Linked DNA regions of Homo sapiens. The protein of the gene in region 1 purifies or fractionates together with the protein of each later gene. This does not show direct contact. Each region holds a gene or a part of one and is shown in the gene's direction. Other genes may lie near its edges.

What was found. The genes of interacting proteins can lie anywhere in the genome.
Region 2: the proteins of WASHC5 (region 1) and ARID4B fractionate together in Homo sapiens (co-fractionation; one large-scale study listed by BioGRID). This does not show direct contact.

Annotation. Positions count from the first base shown.
Region 1 is NC_000008.11:125,025,122-125,030,225, reverse strand, and holds part of WASHC5 (WASH complex subunit 5), read left to right. Parts: intron 1-1,518; coding exon 1,519-1,606; intron 1,607-5,104. UniProt on the Homo sapiens protein: Acts as a component of the WASH core complex that functions as a nucleation-promoting factor (NPF) at the surface of endosomes, where it recruits and activates the Arp2/3 complex to induce actin polymerization, playing a key role in the fission of tubules that serve as transport intermediates during endosome sorting.
Region 2 is NC_000001.11:235,181,651-235,186,007, reverse strand, and holds part of ARID4B (AT-rich interactive domain-containing protein 4B), read left to right. Parts: intron 1-3,214; coding exon 3,215-4,357. UniProt on the Homo sapiens protein: Acts as a transcriptional repressor. May function in the assembly and/or enzymatic activity of the Sin3A corepressor complex or in mediating interactions between the complex and other regulatory complexes.

The DNA of each region.
Region 1 (5,104 bases):
TGCGGAGGTGATTAGCAAGTAACCTCCACACAACTGGCTGTCCCAATTGTAGCTCCCTAGCTGTCAACTTGGACAGGTTCTTCTTCCTCTCTTTCTTTTTCACTAATGGCAGTAAAGGCTTAAGTGTGGCTCTAGTCCAGCATGTTATTGGCAACCCTGAGGGTGGTGATCAGGCTACAGGAGACCAGCTGTAAGTCAGGCTTTCTGATTCAGCAGAGCAAAGGAATCTAAGGAACCTGTGACGCATGGGAATTCCTTCCTTTCTCTTGCTCCAAGCAGAGCAAATATAGCCCTGGTCACAGATTGAAAGATTGAGAGCAGGGAGAATTTTTCCAGGTACAGTCATTCTTAACCCATTCAAAAAGCAAAGTTCATCAGCGAAATTAACCAGTAATGTATTAATAGTACTAAAAGTTATTTGTTAATCAGAAAATGCCAATTGGTACAGGAATTGGAAATCGTTTTAACACCTAAAAACTCCTTTTGATGTAAACAAGAAGGAACGTTAGCTCTATAAGGAGCCTGGCATGTACTTTGCTGTATTCCCAGCTCTGGAACAGTGCTTGGCACTGTAGTTGCTGAATGAATGAATACATGAGTAAAATCCCATATGAAAAATTGCTAGATGCTGTATTTATTTGATACCGTCAAATATGCAGTACATGCCAAGCACATTTCCAGATGCTGGAGAAACAAAGATGAACATATGACCTAGGCCCTCGAGGAGTTTATACTCCTGATGGGAACCCAGCACACCATTGAAAAATTAAGAGGCTTGGAGAATGCTGCTAACTATTATGACAGCCCAGGAGAATCAGGGAGGATTCCACAGGAGAAGTACCCAAGCTGAGACTCGAACAATGTCTAGAAGTTTACTTTCAAATCAGTGTGCAGGCCAGGTGCGGTGGCTCACGCCTGTAATCCCAACACTTTGGGAGGCCAGGGCGGGTGGATCACCTGAGGTCAGGAGTTCAAGACCAGCCTGGCCAACATGGTGAAACCCCGTCTCTACTAAAAATACAAAAAATTAGCCAGGCATGCTGGCGTGCATCTGTAATCCCAGCCAGTCGGGAGGCTGAGGCTGGAGAATCACTTGAACCCGGGAGGCGGAGGTTGCAGTGAGCCGAGATCATACCACTGCACTCCAGCCTGGCTACAAGAGTGAAAAGTCTGTCGCAAAAAAAAAAAAAAAAAAGTGTGCAGGGATGGGAAAGTATGGGACCTGCTAGGTATTGAATCATGTAAACAGAGGGAGATGAGTCTGGATAGATAGCAGGGATCGTGTTGTAAACGCCCATGGAAACCGTATAGAGAAGCTCACATTTACCCTATGGGGTGGGCTCCTGAAAATACATGAGCAAGGTAACAACTTGACAGGAATTAAGAGCATGCTCAATGTTTTTGTTCATCTTTGACTTCATTAGGTAATCTGTTGGTAATTTAGTCTTTCAGGATTCTGACCAAAAGGGCTTATGATGTGCAAAGCAGTTAATTGATCTAAACTGTTCTCTATCACAGCCAGAAGATACCTGAAATTCCTGCAGATGTTGTGGGTGCCCTTCTGTTCCTGGAGGATTATGTTCGGTACACAAAGCTACCCAGGAGGGTAAGTGATAGATAGTAAAGAACAATATTAATAGTTGTAAAAAGATGCTAATAATAGTGGCCCTGGATTCATCAGGAGTGAAGCCCAATAGGTCGTTCACAGTAGATGCCTCTGCGCCTCTCGCCACTGCTCTACCCCCAGCTCTGAAATGTCCTTGCCTTTTCCACCATGGGAATTGCCTTGCAGAGTTTAACACAATGCCCCTCCCGCCTCTTCTTCCTCTCCACCATGTACTCCTGTCAGCAACTCATCTGGTTCAGGAGTTAAGTGAAATAGGCAAGCCAGGAGGGATTCCTTAAGTGGCCAGAGGAAAGAAATAATCATGGTGGTTTGTTCTTTCTCTCTCCACTGACCTGGTTCCCACAGCAAGCACAGTTAAGTTCATGCCACAACTAAATGTATATATGAGCACTGTTTCCAAAAATGGCAGACTACTTTTTACCTGCCAAGACATTCTTTCCTATCCCTTTCTCATTAGTAATTCCACTTTGTTAAATTTTAGCTCAAAGTGGAGAGCTTGATACTGAAAAATACAACTTTCAGCAGATACTGAAAATCATTTGATTTTTAGAAATTAGTAGGTTAGGAATCAAAGATACTTTCTTACAACATGAGCCAAAGATGAACTTTTAAAATTAACTAGCAATGTCAGTACATAATAGTGAAATGTTAGTGGCATTCCCATTAAAGCCAGGACTGTCACAGTGTCATGACAACTATACAGACTCTTGCAACTACTTTTGTTATACAGGTGCAAGACAATAAGAAATGAAATGAAAATAAAATGCATATTGGAAAGAAGACAAACTCTGTATTATTTGAGATTAATTGTCTTCCTTTTTTATTCTATTTTTCCATAAGTTATTGGGATACAGGTGGTATTTGGTTACATGAGTAAGTTCTTTAGTGGTGATTTGTGAGATTTTGATGCACCCATCACCTGAGCAGTATACACTGCACCATATTTGTAGTATTTTATCCTCACTCCCCTCCCATTCTTCCCTCCAAGTCCCCAAAGTCCATTGTATAATTCTTATGCCTTTGCGTCCTCATAGCTTAGCTCCCACATATCAGTAGGAATATACGATGTTTGGTTTTCCATTCCTGAGTTACTTCACTTGTAAGAATAATCTCCAGTCTCATCCGGGTCACTGCAAATGCTGTTAATTCATTCTTTTTTATGGCTGCGTAGCATTCCATCGTATGTATATATCACAATTTCTTTATCCACTCATTGATTGATGGACACTTAGGTTGGTTCCACGATTTTGCAATTGTAAATTGTACTGCTGTAAACATGCATGTGCAGGTATCTTTTTTGAATAATGACTTCTTTTCCTCTGGGTAGTTACCCAGTAGTGGGATTGCTGCATAACTGTCTTCCTTGAATACCCAATAGAATCATGTGAAAAACTATCAAAATAATACAGAGATCAGAAAACAAGCTGGCTACAGAATAAATGTATGAAATACATCAATCGATTAAAAAATACAGTGTGAAAAAGGACCTATTCACAGAAATAACAAGGCAATGATATAGCTAAGAATAACCTCTATAAGAAATATGAAAGAACACTTTATTAAAAAACTATAAAAATTTTAAATATAAAATTTGAAAGTCCATGTTTCTGAATGAGGGTCCTCGAATATTACAGAGATAATAGTTCTATCTAGTTTATAGGTTTACTGCAGTTACAATCAAGATTTCAGGTACTTTTTTAACTTCAAAGAATATATTTTTTAAAATGTCATAGGACTTAGGCAAGTCCTTTTTTAAAAAAAAGATATTAAAATATTATATCAAGTATTAAAACACTGTAAAACTGTAGAAACCAAAATAGGGTGCTACTGGTATGCAACTAAATAGAAGGAACAATGAGCAAGAATATGTAGCCTAGAAACACACCCTGTGCATACAATGGTACATAAGGAAAAGTAGCATCTCAAATTAAGAGAGAAAGGGAATATTAGTCAATAGATGTAAGTTCACACAGTTAAAAAAATAGCAACTTAGTCCCCTTTACATCTCCTATGTTATCAAAATTAATTACAGATAAAGGGTTAGTGTGAAATATGAAACAAATAAATTAGCCGAAATTTTAGGCAAATATGTATCAGCTCTCAGAAATTCCTAAGTATAAAACCAAAAGAAGAAACTATAAAGAAAAAGATTTAGAGACTTGATTTTTTATAAATGCTGAATGTAATTAATTCTGTGTCAGTGTCTCAGTTAAAAAACAAAAGACAAAAGAGGAAATACCAACAAAGGACTAGTTTCTTGATTTATAGTGTGCTCTTCAAATCTTCAAGTTCAGTATGAAAAAGATGTCCAAGCCAATAGAAAAAAAGCAGGGGAAGGGCAAAGGAAATTAAGAGGCAGTTTTCAAGAAAATAGAAATGACAAACCTTCGGATTCAAGGGACAAAAATCCAAATACGAAAATTACTGTTTCCACTTATCAGGTTGGTGAAAGGTAAAATGTTGGGCCCCCATTATTCGGAAGCATTTGGAGAAATGGGACTTGTAAGTGCTATTAATTGGAATGTAAATTGACAGCCTTTGAGGAGGGCAATTTAGCTTTATCTATTTTAAAAAAACATTTGTAATATACTTACCCTGATCCCAGCAATTCCACTGCTAGGAATTTTACCTGCTGGATATATGTGCAAAGGTTTACCAAGATATGTGCCCAAGGATGTTCATAATATAAGATTTAGCAGAGGTAGAGAAGGACACAATATTATGTGATCCTAATTTTGATTGTGTGTGTGTGTGTGTGTGTGTGTCTGTCTGCATATGTAAGTAAACTGGAAAAATTCATTACAAAAGTTGCCAGTTTTTATTTTCTTTAAGGGATTAAGATTAAAAAAATATTTTTTTAAATTTTAAGCTCTGGGCTACACGTGCAGAATGTGCAGGTTTGTTACATAGGTATTATACATGTGCCATCTGTCGCCAGGCTGGAGTGCAGTAGTGAGATCTGGGCTCACTACAGCCTCCGCCTCCCTGGTTCAAGTGATTCTCCTGCCTCAGCCTCCTGAGTAGCTGTGATTACAGATGCGTACCACCACGCCCTGCTGATTTTTTTATTTTCAGTAGAGATGGGATTTCTCCATGTTAGTCAGGCTGGTCTTGAACTCCTGACCTCATGATCCACCCACCTCAGCCTCCCAAAGTGCCAGGATTACAGGCGTGAGCCACCACGCCCAGCCTAGGTTTTAAGCCTCACATGTATTAGGTATTTATACTAATGCTCTCCCTCCCCTTGCCCTCCACCCACTGTAAAAATAATTTTTATACTCTTCTGCATTTGCTAAATTTCCTCTCATTAGCAGGTTATACCTTTATGATCAGAAAAAAAATTAAACACTGCTTCTAAAAAATACTCATCTCCAGCACTTGGAGATCACCTACCTCTACATTCTACCCAACTGAGCCCAATTTAGTCTTCTCAGGGCTTTGCCCAAGAACAGTTCAGGAATGCATGCCTCTGAAGGC
Region 2 (4,357 bases), on another chromosome or scaffold:
CAGAGCAAGACTCAGTCTCAAAAAAAAAAAAAGCAAATAACTAAAGAAAAATTCCAGAACTGACAGACACAAATCTTTACATTGAAATTGCTCACTAGGTACCGAATAAATTAATAGAGTCATACCGTAGTACATCATTATGAAATTATAAAATATCAAGAATGAAAAAATCACCACAAAGGAATGAGAAACCAAAGGAAGGTTATGGCTTATAACCCCTTAAGCAAAGAAGCAATACATTCGGAAGGATTCAGAACTCTGAAGGAAACAATTTTTAACCTAGAATTCTGTACCTCGTGAAACTCTCAATCAATGAAGTTTGAGGGTAAGGATGTATTCAGATAAGTAAGGACGATGAATATTTATATCCCATGTACCTTTTTAAGGAAACTACTCGATGAGCTCTAGTACAGATGAGATAACCAAGGAAGAAGAAGATGTGAGATTCAGTTAACAGTGGACCTAGCTCAAAAGAAAGCAGTGAGGAGGATTCCCCGGATGACAGCTGTTAGAGCAGACCCAGAGAGATACCACCCAGATGCTACTGCAGAAAATAGCTCTCTAGGGTGCAGAGATAGGATGAATAAGGGGAAATTGGATACAACGCTTAATTTAATGAAATAAAATAATGTAAAAGAGATACAAAGGAAGATGTAACATGCAGAAAAGTAGTTGGAAACTCTTGGAAAAATAAAATGCTGTATAAGAAAGGAAGTTTATCAAATGTACTACTTATTTCTGCAGGGAACCACATTTACATATGTTATAAATACTATATTGTAAAAATGAAAGATAACTATATATAGAAAGGATGGTAGAGGGGAGATATGGGTGTTGATAAGTAAGAATCCCCATTGCTCATAGAGGATAAACTTTATAAATAAGTCAGCAGGCCAGGGACGTTGGCTCATGCCTATAATCCCAGTGCTTTGGGAGGCTGAGATGAGCAGATCACTTGGGGTCAAGAGTTCGAGATCAGCCTGTCTAAAATGATGAAACTTCATCTCTACTAAAAATACAAAAATTAGCTGGGCATGGTGGCATGTGCCTGTAGTCCCAGCTGCTTGGGAGGCCGAGGCAGGAGAATTGCTTGAATCCAGGAAGAGGAGGTTGCAGTGAACTGAGATCACACCACTGTACTCCAGCCTGGGTGACAGAGTGAGATTCCGTCACACACACAAAAAAATAAATAAAACAAATAGTATATTATGAATAGTAAGAGATGACTATAACTATCAGATGTTAACACTTTGGAGGTGGAAAAACAGATTTTTATCCTCTTTTTGGTTTTTCATTATGAGTCTAGATTTGTTTTTAATGATGTATATGTATTGTTTTGATAATTTAAAAAATGTGGCCATGCAGACACACATTGTAAAGGTGAAATGGTTTCACAATCTTAGTTATGTCAGTTATGTTTTACATTTAATGAATTTAGCTAAAGAACATGCATGGATTTCTCAGTAGAGAGCTATAGTTAAGGTTGTAAGTTCTGGAGTTAAATGACTTAGATTTAACTACCTTGGGGGGTAGATTAACCTCTAAACCCCAGTCCCTTTTTTTTTGCTTTGTTTTGTTGTGTTGCTTTTTGTTTGTTTGTTTTTCTTATTTATTTAAGACCCTAGTCTCTTGAACTATAAAGTGGGGCTGATAACATGTATCTCGTAGCATTGTTCTGAGGATTGAATGAGATGGTCTGTTCAAAGTGTATCAAAAGTAACCAGCATGTAGTAAGTTCTCAGGAAATGTTATCTTAAAATAACAATAAAATGATTTACCAGAATGAACACACTGAAGCAGTAAGTTCCATAATTAATTTTACATAAGTTATCAGTAACTAAAATTAATTATATCTATTCTTTAAAACATCATGGAAATCATTGATTACAAAATTATTGGATATTCATTATTACATTGAAAAATGAAGCTGGCCAGGTGTGGTGGCTCATGCCTTTAATCTCAGCACTTTGGAAGGCTGAGGTAGGCAGGTTGCTAGAGCTCAGGAGTTCAAGACCAGCCTTGGCAACATGACGAGACCCTGTCTCTACAAAAAATACAAAAATTCACTGGATGTGGCACACCTGTAGTCCCAGCTACTTGGGTGGCTGAGGTGGGAGGATCATTTGAGCCCAGGAGGTTGAGGCTGCAGTGAGCCATGATAGTGCCTGGGGAACAGAGTAAGACCCTGTCTCAGAAAAAAATAGAGAGAGAGAGAGAAATAAAGAAAGAGAAAGGAAAGAGAAAGGAAGGGAGGCAGGGAGGGAAAGAAAATAAAACAAAACAAAACAAAGGAAAGAAAAATGAGAGGCCAGGTGCAGTAGCTTGCTCCTGTGATCCCAGCTACTCAGGAATCTGAGGTGGGAGGATCTCTTGAGCCTAGGAGTTTGAGGCTGAAGTGCACTGTGATTGTGCCACTGCACTCCAGCTTGGATGAGAGAGTGAGACCGTCTCTGATGAAAAGAAAAATGAAGGCTATAGTTTCATAAGAGTATAAACTTGGGGCCAGGCGTGGTGGCTCACGCCTGTAATCCCAGCACTTTGGGAGGCCGAGGAGGGCGGGTCACGAGGTCAGGAGATCAAGACCATCCTGGCTAACACAGTGAAACCCCGTGTCTACTAAAAATACAAAAAATTAGCCGGGCGTGGTGGTGGGCGCCTGTAGTCCCAGCTGCTCAGGAGGCTGAGGCAGGAGAATGGCGTGAACCCAGGAGGCAGAGCTTGCTGTGAGCCGACATCACGCCACTTACACTTTTAGCTTGGATGACAAAGTGAGACTCAAAAAAAAAAAAAGAAGAATATTAACTTGGAGGTAGCACAATCTGGGATTATATCCTGACTCCACTATTTTCTCAGATATATTATGATAAAAATATTATACTTATATAAACTTGGAGAAGCTTTTTTCTTTTTTATTTCAGCTTTATTAAGGTACAGTTTACATAAAAGTGATGACTTTTATGTTTAAAATGTGATGGGTTTTGACAAAAGTATACAGTGTTACAACCATCACCGTGATCGTAATAGAACATTTCCATCATTGGAAGAGCCTCTTAGCCTCTTTGAAACCCAGTTTCTTTGCATGTTACATAGAGATAAAAGCCAGCAACCTCGGGTGGCTGTATACACAGGACCTAATATATACAGTCCCTGGCACATAGAAGACATTGCTAGTGTTCTTATCATACTCATCATTTTTTTTTCTGTTATTTTCTAGCTTCTGAAAGTTCTGCTGAAGACAGTGAGCAGGAAGATGAGAGAGGTGCTCAAGACATGGATAATAATGGCAAAGAGGAATCTAAGATTGATCATTTGACCAACAACAGAAATGATCTTATTTCAAAGGAGGAACAGAACAGTTCATCTTTGCTAGAAGAAAACAAAGTTCATGCAGATTTGGTAATATCCAAACCAGTGTCAAAATCTCCAGAAAGATTAAGGAAAGATATAGAAGTATTATCCGAAGATACTGATTATGAAGAAGATGAAGTCACAAAAAAGAGAAAGGATGTCAAGAAGGACACAACAGATAAATCTTCAAAACCACAAATAAAACGTGGTAAAAGAAGGTATTGCAATACAGAAGAGTGTCTAAAAACTGGATCACCTGGCAAAAAGGAAGAGAAGGCCAAGAACAAAGAATCACTTTGCATGGAAAACAGTAGCAACAGCTCTTCAGATGAAGATGAAGAAGAAACAAAAGCAAAGATGACACCAACTAAGAAATACAATGGTTTGGAGGAAAAAAGAAAATCTCTACGGACAACTGGTTTCTATTCAGGATTTTCAGAAGTGGCAGAAAAAAGGATTAAACTTTTAAATAACTCTGATGAAAGACTTCAAAACAGCAGGGCCAAAGATCGAAAAGATGTCTGGTCAAGTATTCAGGGACAGTGGCCTAAAAAAACGCTGAAAGAGCTTTTTTCAGACTCTGATACTGAGGCTGCAGCTTCCCCACCGCATCCTGCCCCAGAGGAGGGGGTGGCAGAGGAGTCACTGCAGACTGTGGCTGAAGAGGAGAGTTGTTCACCCAGTGTAGAACTAGAAAAACCACCTCCAGTCAATGTCGATAGTAAACCCATTGAAGAAAAAACAGTAGAGGTCAATGACAGAAAAGCAGAATTTCCAAGTAGTGGCAGTAATTCAGTGCTAAATACCCCTCCTACTACACCTGAATCGCCTTCATCAGTCACTGTAACAGAAGGCAGCCGGCAGCAGTCTTCTGTAACAGTATCAGAACCACTGGCTCCAAACCAAGAAGAGGTTCGAAGTATCAAGAGTGAAACTGATAGCACAATTGAGGTGGATAGTGTTGCTGGGGAGCTCCAAGACCTCCAGTCTGAAGGGAATAGCTCGCCAG